Regions from separate parts of the Homo sapiens genome. Here region 1 is linked to region 2. The links come from fine-mapping of genetic effects on gene expression. Tissue or cell type: monocytes. Region 2 holds a variant in brackets; the other region holds the start of a gene. All regions are shown on one strand. Distances are between the middles of the regions.

The links. PIP is the estimated chance that this variant, and not a neighbour inherited with it, causes the effect.
Region 1: it holds the start of RAB18, and the variant in region 2 is fine-mapped to the expression of RAB18 in monocytes (TOPMed, PIP 0.98).

The regions. Positions count from the first base shown.
Region 1 is chr10:27,501,201-27,509,310 of GRCh38, reverse strand. RAB18 (RAB18, member RAS oncogene family) reads right to left here and starts at 5,007. Exons shown (of 7, transcript NM_021252.5): 1 at 4,874-5,007. The coding sequence starts at 4,941. It overlaps LOC124902399 (a long non-coding RNA gene), which reads right to left and starts at 4,866. Exons shown (of 2, transcript XR_007062097.1): 1 at 4,587-4,866; 2 at 4,219-4,332. RefSeq lists enhancers at 4,872-4,931, 5,042-5,311.
Region 2 is chr10:27,454,727-27,462,836 of GRCh38, reverse strand. No RefSeq gene overlaps it. Among named protein-coding and RNA genes, the nearest start is that of PTCHD3, 44 kb to the right of the region's middle. The variant G/T (reference allele first, on the strand shown) is at 4,692.

The DNA of each region.
Region 1 (8,110 bases), 46 kb before region 2:
AACACTAGGTAGAGTGTGTAAAACCAAGTAGGCAACTGGAGGCTACTGGAGGCTTTTAAAGAAAGTTAAGACAAGTACTGCTCTTTGTTTTGAAAAGTTAATACTAACAAAAAATGGAAGAAAATCAATGGAAGACAACCGCCATGGTTATGGCAAGAGAGAACAAAGGACTAAACCTAGGAAATGGTAAGAAACTAGAAAGAAAGGATAAAAGCAAAAGACACCAGATTAGAAGGGTACTCTAAGATTTTACATCTTCCAGAATTATTTTACTTACTATGAAGCAGAAGTGTCAGTTATTAGAAACTCTTCAAAAATAAAATCTAAGCTTTTGTTAAAGCCCTTGATTTTAAAGTCATTCAATCTTCCCTCATGTTAACTTCTGAAGTATAAGACTCTCCTAATTGACCTGTTTGCATGAATAAAATCAAAGAAACAGCCATCAGATATCTAAATTATAGAAAAATCTTATGACTCTTTCTATAGGTTGTGATTATTGCTGGTAGAGGTATGTTTTGTCCATAGAGTTTCTGCAAAACATAATGGCCTCCTGGTAGTTTCCAAACCCAGTGTCATTAAATATATTTGAACGATTAACTCTCCCTTACTTGGTTTTGTTTTCTTGTGTTTACCATAAAACCAGCATCATAAAATCAAAGTAAAAAAGAAGAGTCAAATTCTAGATTTATCTACTTAACATCTTGACTATATTTAGTTACTTGGAACATAGGTAACAATACTAGTAAGACTCTTAAAGACTACCTATAAAATTTTTCTTCTCTCCCAACATACTCAGTTACCCATAATTTAAGAAAAGATACATAATATCTACACGTGGTCACCACAGAAAATATTACTACAAAAACATAAGATTACCTTGTAGACTAGTTGTAATAATATCATAATAATAATACAATAATGATGATATTGGGTATTATTTATTGAACATATGGCAATGTGCAGACACAAAGCCAGAGGTTTTTCTCTCATAATTGCTAATCCTTAAATGGCCTTTGTTATTAACAGTACTTTGTAAGGAGAGGCAGGGAATTGGTGGCATGGTGTGAAGCAACAAATTTTAATACAGGCTCTGGGTATACATCAGATCTTAGACAGGGGTACCCTGGTAGCCCAAAAAGTATTCTAAATTCTATGTGTGCATTTTTCTAGGCAGAGAGTCCATTTCTCTATTAGACTTTGAAAGGGACAGAGAGTCCATTTCTCTATTAGATTTTGAAAAGAACTGACAATCTCAAAATAATTAAGAAGCACACTTTTTTTTTTTTTTTTTTAAGAGAGAGGGTCTCACTCTGTCACCCAGGCTGGAATGCAGTGGCAGAATCACAGCTCACTAATCCTCCCACCTTAGCCCCCCAAGTAACTGGCATGACAGGTGTGCATCACCATGGCCGGCTAATTTTTTTATTTTTATTTTTTTAGAGGCATGGTCTCGTTATGTTGCCCAAGCTGGTCTCGGACTCCTGGCCTCAAGAGATCCTCCTGTCTCAGCCTCCCGAGTAGCTAGGATTACAGGATGAGCCACTGCACCTGGCAGAAGCACCATTCTTATAGTATTGTATATTTACACCCTCATATTTTCAAAGTTAAAGGAGCAAAATGTTTCCCATGCAGAAGTAGAGATGGAAGGAGTAACTACCACCATGGCACTTAGATGTGACCAAATTTATAATAAACAGAGTGTGATTATAACTAATCTGCATTTTTTAAATTTACATATGAAATTCACCAAAAAAAAAAAAAAAAGGGAAGGCAAGGGGCAAAGGAGGGACAGCAATTTAGATAATAGGTCTCTCTAATCCCTTCCAGTTCTTGATATATTCTGCTACTCTTTACCTTACCAGGCCTAGCCACAGAATTGGAGTCTTACACATTTAGGGTCTGAGAGGTTTCTATTCCAACCCCCTCGCTTTTGAAATGAAGGCCTACAGCATTCAAGTATCACACACAAGGTCACACAAGTGGCAGCCCCAGTTTCATAATCCTGATCTCCTGACTACTATCACATACCCTTTAGACTCTAACACTATGAAATCACTAGAAAGTAATCCACTAATTCGGATTAAACATATCCTTTGTTTTCCCCAACAGCACAAGTGCTATCTCACTTCCACTAGCTCCAGCTCTGTAATGAAATAGAAACAAACTTGGTTAAAACAATCCTTTAAGATCATATCCACAGCAAATGTTTTTGTACTAATTCACTTTAAAAGGCATAGACTTCTATTTCAGTGGAGTCATTTATTCTCATCTTATCCAGAGTGTTTAAGATTGTTTTCCACAGCATATCACACAGGCCAATAATGTATATCTAGCTAGACAAATAAGACAACTTTCTCACTATATGTAATCCTTTCACAAAAGAAATAAAGTGACAAAATCCTGCATCGAGCAGTTGATAATCCATTGCTACGTATTGAGGAAAAAGTTTAAAACAGATTAGGCCCACGGTAAATTTGTTTCTTTGTTTCGGTGGCATGAACTAGGGAGACTGATAAATCCACTTAACAGGCCTTACTCTACAAGGAGAACCTCGGTTGGGTGTCATGCCTTGTGTCTGTAATCCCAGCACTTTAGGAGTATGAGGCAGGAGTTTGGCTTGAGCCTGTGTGTTGGAGACCACCTGGGCAACATAGGAAAATCCCATCTATGAAAAAAATTTTAGAAGTAGGGCCGGTTGTGGTGGCTCATGCTTATGTTCCTAGCACTTTGGGAGGTCAAGGCAGGAGGATCTGTTGAGCTCAGGAGTTCGAGACAGCCTGGGCAACACAGTGAGTCCTCCTCTCTATAAAAAATAAAAAAACACTAGTCAGACATGGTGACTCGTGCCTATAGTCCAGCTACTCAAAAGGCTGAGGTGGGAGGATCACTTGAGCCCAGGAGATTGAGACTGCAGTGAGCTATGATCATGCCACTGCACTCCAGTCTGGGTGACAGAATAAGACCCTGTCTCAAAAAAACAGCGGGTAGAGCAGAGGAATTTTGTTTATATACTCCAGTTAACCTTCCAGAAAATTTTAACATACCCTAACTTGTCATCCATGCAATACATTTAGAAAAAGTGCTAACCAACCATGTATTGGGTTGAACTACATGAAATGACAACCAACCATTCTTGACTTCAAAAACACTAATTTCATATGCCTGAACTTAAATGAGAACGATATCTCAAGGAAAAAAGGAGAAAAGAAAAAGAAAGATCACAAGGCTGTGAAATTCCTATTAAGACAACGTTTAACTTTTTAACACTCAAATATGTATGTGCAATAATAGATGATCATGTAAATAATTTTACTCATGCCTTTTACACACACACAGACAAATCATGCTGGTTTGCTAACTCATAGTATTTCATTATTCTATTCCTTGGTATGTGCAAATCCTTCATTCCAGTAGACACAGAGGACATTACATGAGGAACACTATGAAAATGTGTTGTCAAACTGGTGGCTCACGCCTGTAATCCTAGCACTTTGGGAGGCCGAGGTGGGCGGGTCACGAGGTCAAAAGATGGAGACCATCCTGGCCAACATGGTGAAACCCCATCTCTACTAACAGTACAAAAGTTAGCTGGGCATGATAGTGCGCGCCTGTAGTCCCAGCTACTCGGGAGGCTGAAGCAGGAGAATCGCTTGAACCCGGGAGGCGGAGGTTGCAGTGACCCGAGATCGCGCCACTGCACTCCAGCCTGGCAACAGAGCGAGACTCCGTCTCAAAAAATAAATAAATAAATAAGTAAATAATATCAGAATATATTACATAAGCTTTCAAATTCTGAAGAAGCTTTTAAAAAGTAAGACTTTATGAAGTGACTTTTACAAGTTATTTGAGGAGAGCTTTCATTCTAGTTTGTAGAATTAAGGCTATTTCAATTTATGAAATACAAAAAATTATTTGAAAGATACGTGTATCAGAAGGTATAGCTAAAATATGAAACTGATTACAGCCCCTGGAGTGCAAATGTGGTTTAAGGATCAGGACGGCCTTGAACATAACCTACTCATAATCAGATGGCAAGAATGACATCAGCTGGAGAACTCTCTTCCAAGACCTGGATGAAATCACAGCCCTCTAGCAACATCCACCTAGATCCATGTCTTACCTTATACTCAACTCCACTGTCAATATTATTTTCCCCAAGGAAAAAGTAAAAAATGAAAGCACAACACTAATCTTCTGTCTCCACAGGATGTGGCAAAATGAGAAATAACAATTACATTTTATTTTCAAAGGTGGCCCACGGCTGAAGCACTCGGACCTTACACTAAAGCGAAATTTTCCAGCAGTCACAAGATCCAGTTCTTTCACAGCCGACTAATAAAAAAGTAAAAGAATCGACATTAAGCTGCGCCCAAACAGGCCAGGAATGGGACCTAAGGCGTCACGAAACTTCCCGAGGACATTATGTATTTAGAGAAGGCCCCACAGAAACCCTCAAGTGGGAAAGCTATGTCTCCCGGGTCTCGGGGTGGCAGGCAGCCTGAACCCCGAGAGGTTCGAGGCAAGGCGCCCCCGGCCGGATTCGGGCCCAAACCAGCCCGCCACGCCCTGAGCTCCGCGCAGCAAACCTGCCGGCCGAGCGGCGGCCCTCGGAATGGTGTTTTCTCGGCGCTACAGGAGGGAGAGCGACCCAGAGAACTTGGGCCTGGCAAAGGCCGGGAACCAGGCAGGCGCGGGTGGGGAGAGGAAAGCAAACGTCGCGGGAGAGCGCGGCCCAGAGGCCGAGGAGGGCGCGAGCGGAGCCGGCCCGAGCCCGCCGCTGCAGTTTACAGTTCCCGTCGCGGCCCAGGAGACAGCAGCCACCGGGGCAGAAAGAGCCCAGCCACCCTCGTCACGACCCGCACCTCCGCCTCACCTGGACTTGCCCACCCCACTCTCGCCGATGATGAGGATCTTCAGGGTGGTTAGCACGTCCTCGTCCATCCTGACCCCGTTCCGCTCCGAGCCCAGCTGGCCGCCCGGGTGCGCCTCTCAGCCCTTCAGCAGAGTGAGCTGCTGCGCATGCGCGCCGCTCCACGTCTGCCACCTTCCTTTCACACCGGGTGTTCAGGCTGCCGAAGCCCTGGACTCCCCAGTTCCGCCTTGAGGTAGCTCCACGGCTGCGCGACCCAGAATCCCCGGCGTTTTTCCGGACTGCGTGTTCCTCCCCTGCGCAAGCGCAGGTGGGGAGCGCTGTGTGTGACTTTGTTGGCTTCTTCTTGAGGTCTAGCTCCGCCCCAGCCTCAACCTAACCCTCCTTTTGAGTCAGTGGGAGGACTCAGTCAGGAGAATATCAAGCTGTTTTATTTCGGCAGCTGCTCATAACAGCTGCACTGCGGTGGGAAAAGCACTGTGCTTGAAGCAGATTATCTTAAATTTAGGTCCAGCTCTACCTTATAACTGCCTTGTCATACTACCCAGCTTTCTTAGCCTTTCTCCATCTCTGAGAGACACAGTAACACTTCTTAGAACATCTGCTTCTTATTGTTATGAAGGTTAAGTGAGTTAATTTGTGAAGACATGTTGTTAACCAAAGTGCTCTATAAAAGGTGTGATCAGGTATTATCTTGCTGGCTTCCCCTCTGTTATAGTGGAGAGCACCCTCTGCACCCTAATTCATCTTGAAAGGGAGGCGTAGACTTCAGGTAGGTCAGGTGCATTACTTCTGGCGGTGCAACTTCAAGTCAACTCTCCTTCCTCATAAGAACTGCTACACCCATACTGCAGGAAGTGTATGTCTACACCTTGCCTCCTGCATTAAGTTGTAAATCTTAGTGAAGGTACCAAACCTCATTCATAATACTTAGCACAGTGCCTGGTACATGGCAGGCACTCAATAAACCTCAGTTCTCTTGTCTTATTTCCTTATACCTGCAGCTAATGTCATATACAATGGATATTTGATTAAAGACTACATATAAATAAAATTTCAAATGTTAAGAAATTAATTTGTTAAATAGCTGGAAAAGCCCTTTCAAAAGATATCCCAATGGCTTCTCCTCCTTCAGGTCTTCGCTCAAATGTTGCATTCTTAAAGAGGCCTTCCCTGTCCATTCTACTGAAATATGCAAATCCCTCCAGCATTCTCTAGACCTCTTTACATTGTTTTTCTGCATAGGATTTAACCACTCTCTGATACACTATATATTTTACTACTTTATTAGAAGTCTCATGAAGGCAAGGATATTTTGTTTTGTCTACTGGTATGTCTTCAGTATCTAGAGTACTTCATGGCACATAATATGTGCTAAATAAATGTATGCTGAATGAATTAATTGAATGAATGTTGTAGAGTCCATTCCTAACCTTAGAGAATAATGTCAATGAAACAACCTCCACTTCTCATCAGATAGCCCTTGAAACTTCAGTCAAGTCTATCTAGCTTACTTTTCATTATGACAAAAAGATCTTATTTATGAGGTTCACAGTATTGTCAAGCTCTCCTGCCCTGGGGTCCCGAGATCCCTAGAAATCCCTGAAAACCTTTCAGGGGGGTTGCAAGATCAAACTATTTTCATAGTTAATATGTTATTTTTTCATGCACATTCTCTGATGATAATATAATGGAGTTTTCCAGAGGCTATATATTAATAACATGTAATAGCAAAACAGATTGAAGGCAGAACAAGATATGTGAACTTACTGGTTTTCTATGATATTAAGCCAGATATTAAAGGGATTTCCTAAAATGTAAAACATTGCCACTGTTCTCAATTTTGTTCTGTTTTAAAGTAGTTATTTTCATAAACATTTCTATTAACTGGTAATAGGTTTATTATTGTTTTTAAGTAAATTAACATGTTTGAAATTTTCTCAGTTTTAATTTCTAGTAGGATAAATAAGAGATGTAATCTCTTTGGGGTTCTTACAATCAAAAGCTCTTTCAGGTCCTCAATGATTTTTAAGAGTATACTATAATTTGTACAACCAAAAAGTGTGAGAACCATTGCACTGTGCTATTCACACCAAGATAAATACAAAAACAAAAACTTCATCAATAAATCCAGGGCTATCTCTTGCAACCTGTAATACTGTTGACGTACTTTGGCAATATCATTTTCTCTTGGATTTCCTCCATCTCTTGGCCATTTCCTCTCTTTCTTTTTCTTTTCTTTTCTTTTCTTTTTTTTTAAGAGATGGGATATTGCTATGCTGCCCAGGGTGGTCTCTAACTTCTGAGCTCAAGAAGTAATCCTCCTACCTCAGCCTTTGAGTAGCTGGAACTGCAGGCATGCATCACCACGCCTAACTAATTTTTAAAACATTTTTTTAGAGATGGGGTCTTGCTATGTTGCTGGTCTCAAACTGCTGGGCTCAAGCAATCCCCCTGCCTCGGCCTCCCGAATTTACATCTCTGGCTGAGATTTTTCTCCTGAGGTTCAGGCCAACATACACAACTGCCAAGACATCCCCACATGGGGGCTGGCAATAAAGAGATGTACTTAAAAGACACAATGAATAACTGTCCCATGCTTAGTGAAGAAGAGGGGAAAGAAAAGGGAAAGAAAAACATCGAACATTTCTCTAATGTTTCAAGCCTCGGCACTACCAATCTGAGAGAAAACCCAAGACAGAAACAAGAAGGAATATGAGTTTCGTTTCAGCCATAGTGAATTTTATGTAAAGGTGAGCCTTGAAGGCAAAATTTTTCAGACCTCTTTTAGAGCAGTGGTTCCAAGATTCAGGACAGATAGCAAGACACTAAAAAAATGAACCAAGGAGATGGCCTAGGTGTTCTAACCAACAATTTGGCCTAGGTGTTCTCTTCTATATACTATTATCCTTACATCCCTGGAAAACACAGCCAAATCCTTTCTTAGGTTTCAGACATAACTGACTGCCCTTTTCCCTGTGGATCCATCTTCTAGTATTAATTATTTTTACCATATCCAAATATATGATCACCTCATAAAGGAATGTCTATGGCAATATTCTTAATACCTGAAGTTTGGGATGAGCAATGAGCAAGCCCAGTATGTAGGAAGAAATTGAAATGGCGAAACCACTTGGAGATGTGATGGAGAAGGCCCATCCCATGTTGCTGTCAGTAACATGCCTACAGTGGGCAGCCCCAGAGATAGACAACAGATGAGAGAAAAAAACAGATTCAGGC
Region 2 (8,110 bases):
GTCCATGCTAAGCCAATCAGTGTCCTTTTCCTAGAATTTTACAACTGGACTTGTGAAACGCTTAACGATTCAAACTCCGGTCTCCTAGCAGACTTTTGGAGAAAAATTCACCTGTTTTCAAAAAGAAGGAAGCCAAGACAGGCAGAAAAACAAACAAACAAACAAACAGATAAACCATAAGAATCTTGTGGGCAAACAAGGCTTGGTTCCAGGTGTCCTTGAGGCCCAGCTATCCCCCACATCTTCCAGAAGCTACATTGTTTTATAAGAGTCCATAGTATATATTTAATAAATTACTGATATGGTTTGGCTCTGTGTCCCCACCCAAATCTCATCTTGAATTGTTATCTCCATAATCCCCACGTATCAAGGGCAGGACCAGGTGGAGGTAATTGGATCATGGGGATGGTTCTCCTGATAATGAGTGAGTCTCACGAGATCTGACGGTTTTATAATCTTCTAGCATTTCCCCTGCTTGCACTCACTCAGTCCTGCCACCCTGCAAAGGTGGTGCCTGCTTCTCCTTTGCCTTCTCCCATGATTGTAAGTTTCCTGAGGCCTCCCCAGCAATGCGGAACTGTGAGTCAACTAAAATGCTTTCCTTTATAAATCACCCAGTCTTAGGCAGTTCTTTACAGCAGTGTGAGAACGGACTAATAGAATTATTATTATTATTATTTTTTTTTTTTTTTTGAGACAGAGTCTCCCTCTGTCACTCAGGCTGGAGTGCAGAGGTGTGATCTCGGCTCACTGCAAGCTCCGCCTCCCGGCTTCATGCCATTCTCCTGCCTCAGCCTCCCAAGTAGCTGGGACTACAGGCGCCCGCCACCATGCTCAGCTAATTTTTTGTATTTTTTAGTAAAGACCAGGTTTCACTGTGTTAGCCAGGATGGTCTCGATCTCCTGACCTCGTGATCCACCAGCCTCGGCCTCCCAGAATTACTTTTTAAAGTGATTTTATTAAAAAAAAGATTTTCCTTCACTATACCCAAGAGAGTTCTAATTATTTTAAGTAAATTAATCAGCTGGTGGTACCGTAAACATAAGAAGACAGCCATCAGGATAAGGACTATTTCTCTGAAGGCCACTGAAAGTTTAATAGGTTTGTAAACAAAATAAATTCCTAAGCCCCCACCAACTGACTAAATGGATTCCCTCTTGGCCAAGGGGACCCCAGAGAAATCTGAAAAACTGAATTAATGACATTAAAGGAGGTTGGACACACCTCATTATACCCCCTCCCTTTTGGAGTTTAGACACAACTGACCAACATTACAATAAATTTTAAAATAAATTAATTTAATAAAATAAAAGTAATAACTTTTATTAATAAAAATAATAAAATTAAAGTACTTAAAATAAATTTAAATAAAATTAAAATAGAGATCACAAGACTGAAAAAACAGACTCTTTGTGGCAATAAGCTACCAAATTCCAACCTGACTCTGGTGTAGGATTGCGTGACACATAGCAGACCCAGAGAGAAATCAAAATATTTTAACCCAAAATATATTTATTTGACATATTATGAAATTGCCCCACAAAGCTGTCTTTGTGGGGGAAATTTGCATCTGTAGAGAATCTCCATTAATGCAGACAGGCCTTCCCTTTGCAGGCCTTTCCTGGATCTAGGAGAGATTAACCAAGCATCTGATACCTTTAAAGATACAAAAAGAGACATTTACTATCTATTCTCTCTGAAGCCTGCTACCTGTGAGACTTTATCTACTTAACAAGAACTTTGGTTTCCATAAGCCCCCTTATCTTAACTCAAGCATTTTTTTCCTACTGACTTCAAGTCTTTAGACAAAGCTTAACTCTTTCTCAACCAATTGCCAACCAGAAAAATCTCTGAATCCACCTATGACCTGTAATCCTCCCCACCCCACCCCTCATCTCACTGCCCGCTTCAAGATATCCCACCTCTTTGGGCTGAGCAAATGTTTACCCTCCATGTATTAATTTAGTATTTTACCTGCAATTCCCATCTCCCTAAAATGTATAAAACCAAATTGTAACCCAATTGCCTAGGGCACTCTTTCTCAGAAGTTCTCAAGACCGTTCCCTGGGCTATGGCCACTCATATTGCCTTAGAATAAACCTCTTTAAAATACTTTACAGAGTTTGAAGTTTCTTTCCATCAACAAGTTATAGACTCGAGACAAGTATTTCTACTGAATAGCCAAAAGAAAGTACATTTAGCAAACCAAGACGCATACTCTATTAGCTATGGCATAAAAATAGACAAAAATAAAGCCATCAGTGTTGCAGAACTTTCTTTGCTAAAAATAAAGAGGGAAAAATATAGAGAAGTGAAGTAGGAATAACAGATCCCAATCACCAGGAATAAACCATTTAAGCTCTTCTCTGTAACCTCCAAAGTTTTATGTAAAATAAAAGAGGTAGCCCAGATAACTGCCTAGCTCCCTACTATCTGTAAAATTCTTTAGCTCTAATATTAAAAAATGTCAACAGTTATTCACAAAATTTTTAAAGTCCTGAAAGTATGACAAAGATTATTTTCATACTAAACACAACTGCCAAAAATGGAGGTCTTACAACTGACTTAGCTGCAACAATATAATTAGACTAAACACTTCAGAATACTTTTATTGGTTAATTAGTTTGTGTTGATGACAAATTATTACCAGCTCTTAGAAGTGAACTGTGAAGTCTAAGATATAGCTTATGCTTTTTAGATACTAAAAATATATAAAACTGTTGTGTGACGATTCAAGAAAGCAAAATCAAATTGCTGTCATTTATTTCTGTATGGCTTTTAATTTAAAATTGCTACTCAGCTCAAGATCCAACTCATATTTATTTTTGTTTTAAAATGCAGTTCATTTCACACCAATAATTCACTTTATTATGAATGTTTTATTTACCGTGATTCAGTACTATATATATATACACACACACACGCACACACACATGCACACACACATATATATAATTAGGGTAATGATTACAAAACATTTTTGACAAGTACAGAAAATAGTAATGTTTTCCAGCTGCGACATGGTGTGTCACCAAAAGAACCACTGGCCCCACAGAATAAGGCAACACTTATGCAAGTACATGACAGAAATCTAAATGTCTAATGAATTAATTTTGATCATTGACTTACAGATTTTTCTAAATGTTCCCATATGTTGTTTAAATTGCCCATTATCAAAGTTAGTGCCTGAATGTTGTCACTTTCAGAGCTTCACTCTGGAAAGTTTTAAAAATTGTAATTATTTAAATGTATTTGTGTGCAGTGTACTGTCATTGGGGAAAAAAATAAAACTACTGCCTTGCCTAATAGACTATTTCTAGATATCTAATTTTTGAAATTAAATTTAAAGTTCTGAAGTCTCTTTCTTTTATTAGCTGTAGTGGTGCCGTGGCAAGATATTTTGTTCCTTTGGTAGACTTGTGTACTAAAGAGTCAAAACGGAGAAATATATGTAAAGACCTCAAATTCAGACTACACACTGCTGAAAGAAAATGCAGAATGTGTCACAACTTGAATCTTCAAGCTCGGAAAGCACTGCAGATTGTCCACATTCTAGGAGGCTGCCATAGCATAAGCTATCTGTCCCTACCCCATCCCAACCTTCCCAGGGATTGTGCTGGAAGGAGAGAGCTCAGCCAGGGCAAAGCACAAAAACCTCAGAAACTATTTCTAGATGAGTCAGTTTCACTGGTCTGGCATAAAAGTAAAGATCAGAAAGCCTTCCTATAACTAAAACAATTGTTCTAAACATTATAAATACTAACATAGTTATTTTGCTGTTTAGAAAACAACACTTATAATTTATTGACTTCTTACAAAGTACCAGCACTACCTAAGCTCCTCAGAGGCAGGTACTCTACTACCCCATTTAACTTGTCCAAAGTTACACACCTAAGGCACTGTCGACCCAGGATGTGAACACAGGTGCCTGACTATGGAGCCTGTGCCCCCTGACAGTGCACAATGCTACTCCTGAAATGACCGAATGTAAAGGGCTTGATTTATTGGTACAAATGACACAAACAAACTTCCTGTGTTCTTGTCCTAGGCTAAATTATCAGGATGTAACTAAGCAGCCATTTTGTCCTGAGATTCTTTTAGTTCTATTAAAGTTTACACACCCTCCAATTTTTATTGTACATGCAAATACCACACAATGAAAATTTTAAGAAAAAATAGGGTTTATGTCATGTAGCTCTCCCTTTTACAGTACCAGCAAAATAGGCACCAAAGAATCTGCGCCGCTCTCCCCTGACCAAATCCTCAAGTCAAGGATGGGAAACAGGGGCTTGAGAGCCATGAGTTTTGTACGCCCATGTTTATAACAGCGTTAGTCACAACAGCTAAAACATGGAAGCAACTCAAGTGTCTGTCAGTGTTTGAGGGATATGCAAAATGTGGTATATACACACAATAGAATATCATTCAGCCATTATAGGAAGAAAATTCTCACATAGGCTAACACACGGATGAAACTTGAGGATATCATGCTAACTGAAATAAGCCAATCACAGAAAGACAAATACTGTATGATTCCACTTGTCTGAGGTATTTATTTAGAGTAGTCAAAATCATAGAGATAGACAGAAGAATGATGGTTAGATGGGGGCTGGGGACAGGAAGGAATAAGGAGTGGCTTAAGAGATACAGAGTTTCCGTTTTGCAAGATGAGTGGTCTGGAGATGGATGG[G/T]GGTGATGGTTGCGCAACCTTATGCCACTGGACAGTACATTTAGAAATGATTAAGATTGTAAATTTTATGTTATGTGTATTTTACCATTTTTTAATTGGGAAAAAAATTAAAATTGAAAAGAGGAGCCCTGGGACAAAATTGTTATCTATAATGACTAGCTAGATGGATTGATTCCCTTCCCCCTGCCCCACAGACCTCCCCATTTTGTCAGTAGCAGGTAGCTGAGGCATCTGCTTCAGGTTGGAGAAAAGTGTGGGTTTTTAAGGTGGAGAGGCAGGGCAGGGCCTTTGTGAATGGCATTGTCGAAGCAGTCCAAGGAGCACCCCCTAAGGATGCGGACCTGGCATTCCTCATCCAGTAACACATCTGGTTCCTCCTCCACATCCTTGGAGACAGACCTCACACAAATACAAGACCTAAGCCAACAATTACCACACAGATGAGGAAAACCAATCTCATAAAAGATACATACTCAACTTAATCAACAGAAGTAACTCCCTAGGGAAAAAGGTTACTAGAGCAAACAAAATGAGCCTTTAATAAAAGTAAAATTAATATCCTCAGGAGGATATCGTAACTATAAAAATACAACTATGAAAACAATTTGAGATCTTAGAAATATAAAAATACCACTCACTATTAAAATGAAACTCAGTACCAGGGCTGAGTGATAGAATGGACATGACTGAAGAGCATGTTCACAAAGCTGAAAGATCAAACTGATTACCTTGCCCTAAATGCAGTGCAATGGAATGAATGGGTGGTAAACACAAAATAAAAACTAAGGCTTGAGGGAGAATTCCAGAAGGTCTTGCAACCATCTAACTAGAGTTCCAGGACAGAACAGAAAGTATTGAAAAAATAATAATAAAAGTAATGATAGAAGAATATTTCCAAGAATATCAAAAGACATGAGTCTTCAGATTGAAAGGGACTACTGAAATGTTTTTATTTTTTTCAACCCTGCTCCTTCTGTAAAGACTACTGAAAATTGATCCAGATGAAAACAACCATAGATAAGTTCTTGTGAAATATTAAAGGGTAAGAACAATATCTTCAAAGCCTTCAAAGAAGGAAAATAATTACCTGCAAAAGAGGAAGAATCAGATTGATATTAGATTTTATCATTACAATGCTGGATGCAAAAAGACATTTGAGCCAATTTTCAAAGTAGCAAGTGAAAATAAATTTAAATCTAATTTAAATTTGAATGTGAACAACTCACATATCCACCGTAACAGAATGATTAGATAAGCTATGCTATATCCTTATTGTGGGACATTTTTTGTGACACTATGCAGCAGTTAAATATGCCATCTCTGAAATACATTGTTAGTGAAAAAGCAAGCTACAGAAATATAATATGCCAGACATGGTTCAAGCCATCTCTAAGACACATTGTTAGTGAAAAAACAAGCCGTAGAAATATTTATATATATCAGTCATGGTTCAACTAAAGAAACAAAATCAGTAGGAAATACATGTTAAGAGATTTATTGCAAGGAATATGTGTATCCAACTGTCAGACTGGCTAGGCAGTCTGAGAACCACAGAGCAGGCCATCAGGGAGAGAAGTCTGGAACTGTCAGGCACGAACTGATGCTGCTATCCATAGGCAGAATTCCTTTTTCTTCAGGGAAGACTCAAGTCTGCTCTTAAGAACTTTCAAATGACTGAATCAGGCCCATCCAGATTATCTAGGATCATCTCCCTTACTCAAAATCAACAGAATATGGATTTTAATCACATCTACAAAAATGCCTTTACAGCAACACACCCAGGTTAGTGTTGATTGAATTAGTGGAAACTGTACCTTAGCCAAGTTGACACATAAAACTGACAATCACAATCATATATATATATGCATCATGATCCAGATGCAGTGTGTGTGTGTGTGTAGATAGAGTTTGGGAAAGATTCACATGAAACAGCTAACAATGGTTACTATTCAGGAACAGAGGGAAAACTGGAAAGGAAAGCTCAGGAACACTGAAAATTGAAACAAGAAGTGATCTAGGGCAAAGAGGAGACTCATTTTCTGCTCTTTATAGTTCCAGTTTTTAAACCTTTTTTACCACTAGATCATATAATGAATTACATGTGTTTATGTTTCCAATTTTTAAGCCTTTTTACCACTAGATCATATAATGAATTGCGTGTGTTTGTGTGTGTGTGTGTGTGTGTGTGTGTATTTTTTTAAGAGAAAGGATCTCACCTAGGCTGGAGTACAGTGGCACAATCATAGCTCACTGTAGCCTCTAACTCGTGGGCTCAATCCTCCAGCCCCAGTCTCCCAAGTACCTAGGACTACACACACATACCACCATACCCAGCTAAACCTTTTAATTTTTTTAAGTAGAGACAGGGTCTTGCTATGTTGCCCAGGCTGGTCTGTAACTGCTGGCCTCAAGTGATCCTCCAGCCTCGACTTCCCAAAATACTTGGATTACAGGCGTAAGCCACTGTGCCCAATGCTACATTTTTAGCATCTATAAAAATGTATGTCTAACTCTTGCCAACAAGTGGTTTATAATGAGATTAAAAACATTAGTAACATGCCTGTAAGTCATCTACAATGAGATAAAAACATTAGTAATATGTCTGTAGGTAAAGAATGAGTATAATCCACCAGTTTCAATGCCAACTGATTTTTTTTTTACAGAGCTGTCATTTTATTTATAAGGATATTCTTTTCAGTGTTAATAAAGACACCTAAAGTTCAGTTTAAAAATTAAATAAAAATATATAAATAATAAGAATCTTTTTTTTTCCAGTAAGCCAGGAACCTAGTTGTACCCCTAATGAGTGAGATATATTATCTCTCTTAGGTCACAGGGGACCTGTTTTTTAGCATTCCAATCTAATAGACTTCGAGTGGCCTCCCTAAGCACCTAGCTATAGACAAAGTGGATTAGACAATATGGAAAATCCAGCTCATTAGGACCCAACTACTGAGAACTACGGAGTCTCACCTCATCAGACTTGAGAATTCATCATAACACAGATGCAGAACAAAGGTCATTGTTTCACAAGTAAAGATGGCTCTTTCTTTTGCATTCTGAATGTACACAGTATAATCTCCTTCTTTGATGTTTCTGGTTAATTTACAAGGTCAGCGTTTTCCAAAGGTTACATTCTAGATTTATATGGGTGTCCTGGGGTTGGGCTGCTCGATATACTTCAACTGGTTTCTTACCAGATTTCATCCAAATGCTTCTCCAAGTGTACCCTCTGTGCTTAGACTGTAAAACAAAAGCAAGGCAGGAGGGGGCTAAAAAAACAGTAGAAATGAATCAAGGCATAGATAGAAACATCAAATTAGAGCCCATTCAGAGCTCCGTTTATTTCTCTTTCATATTTATTAATTATTATTATTTTTTTGAGACAGTCTCGCTCTGTCACCCAGGCTGGAGCGCAA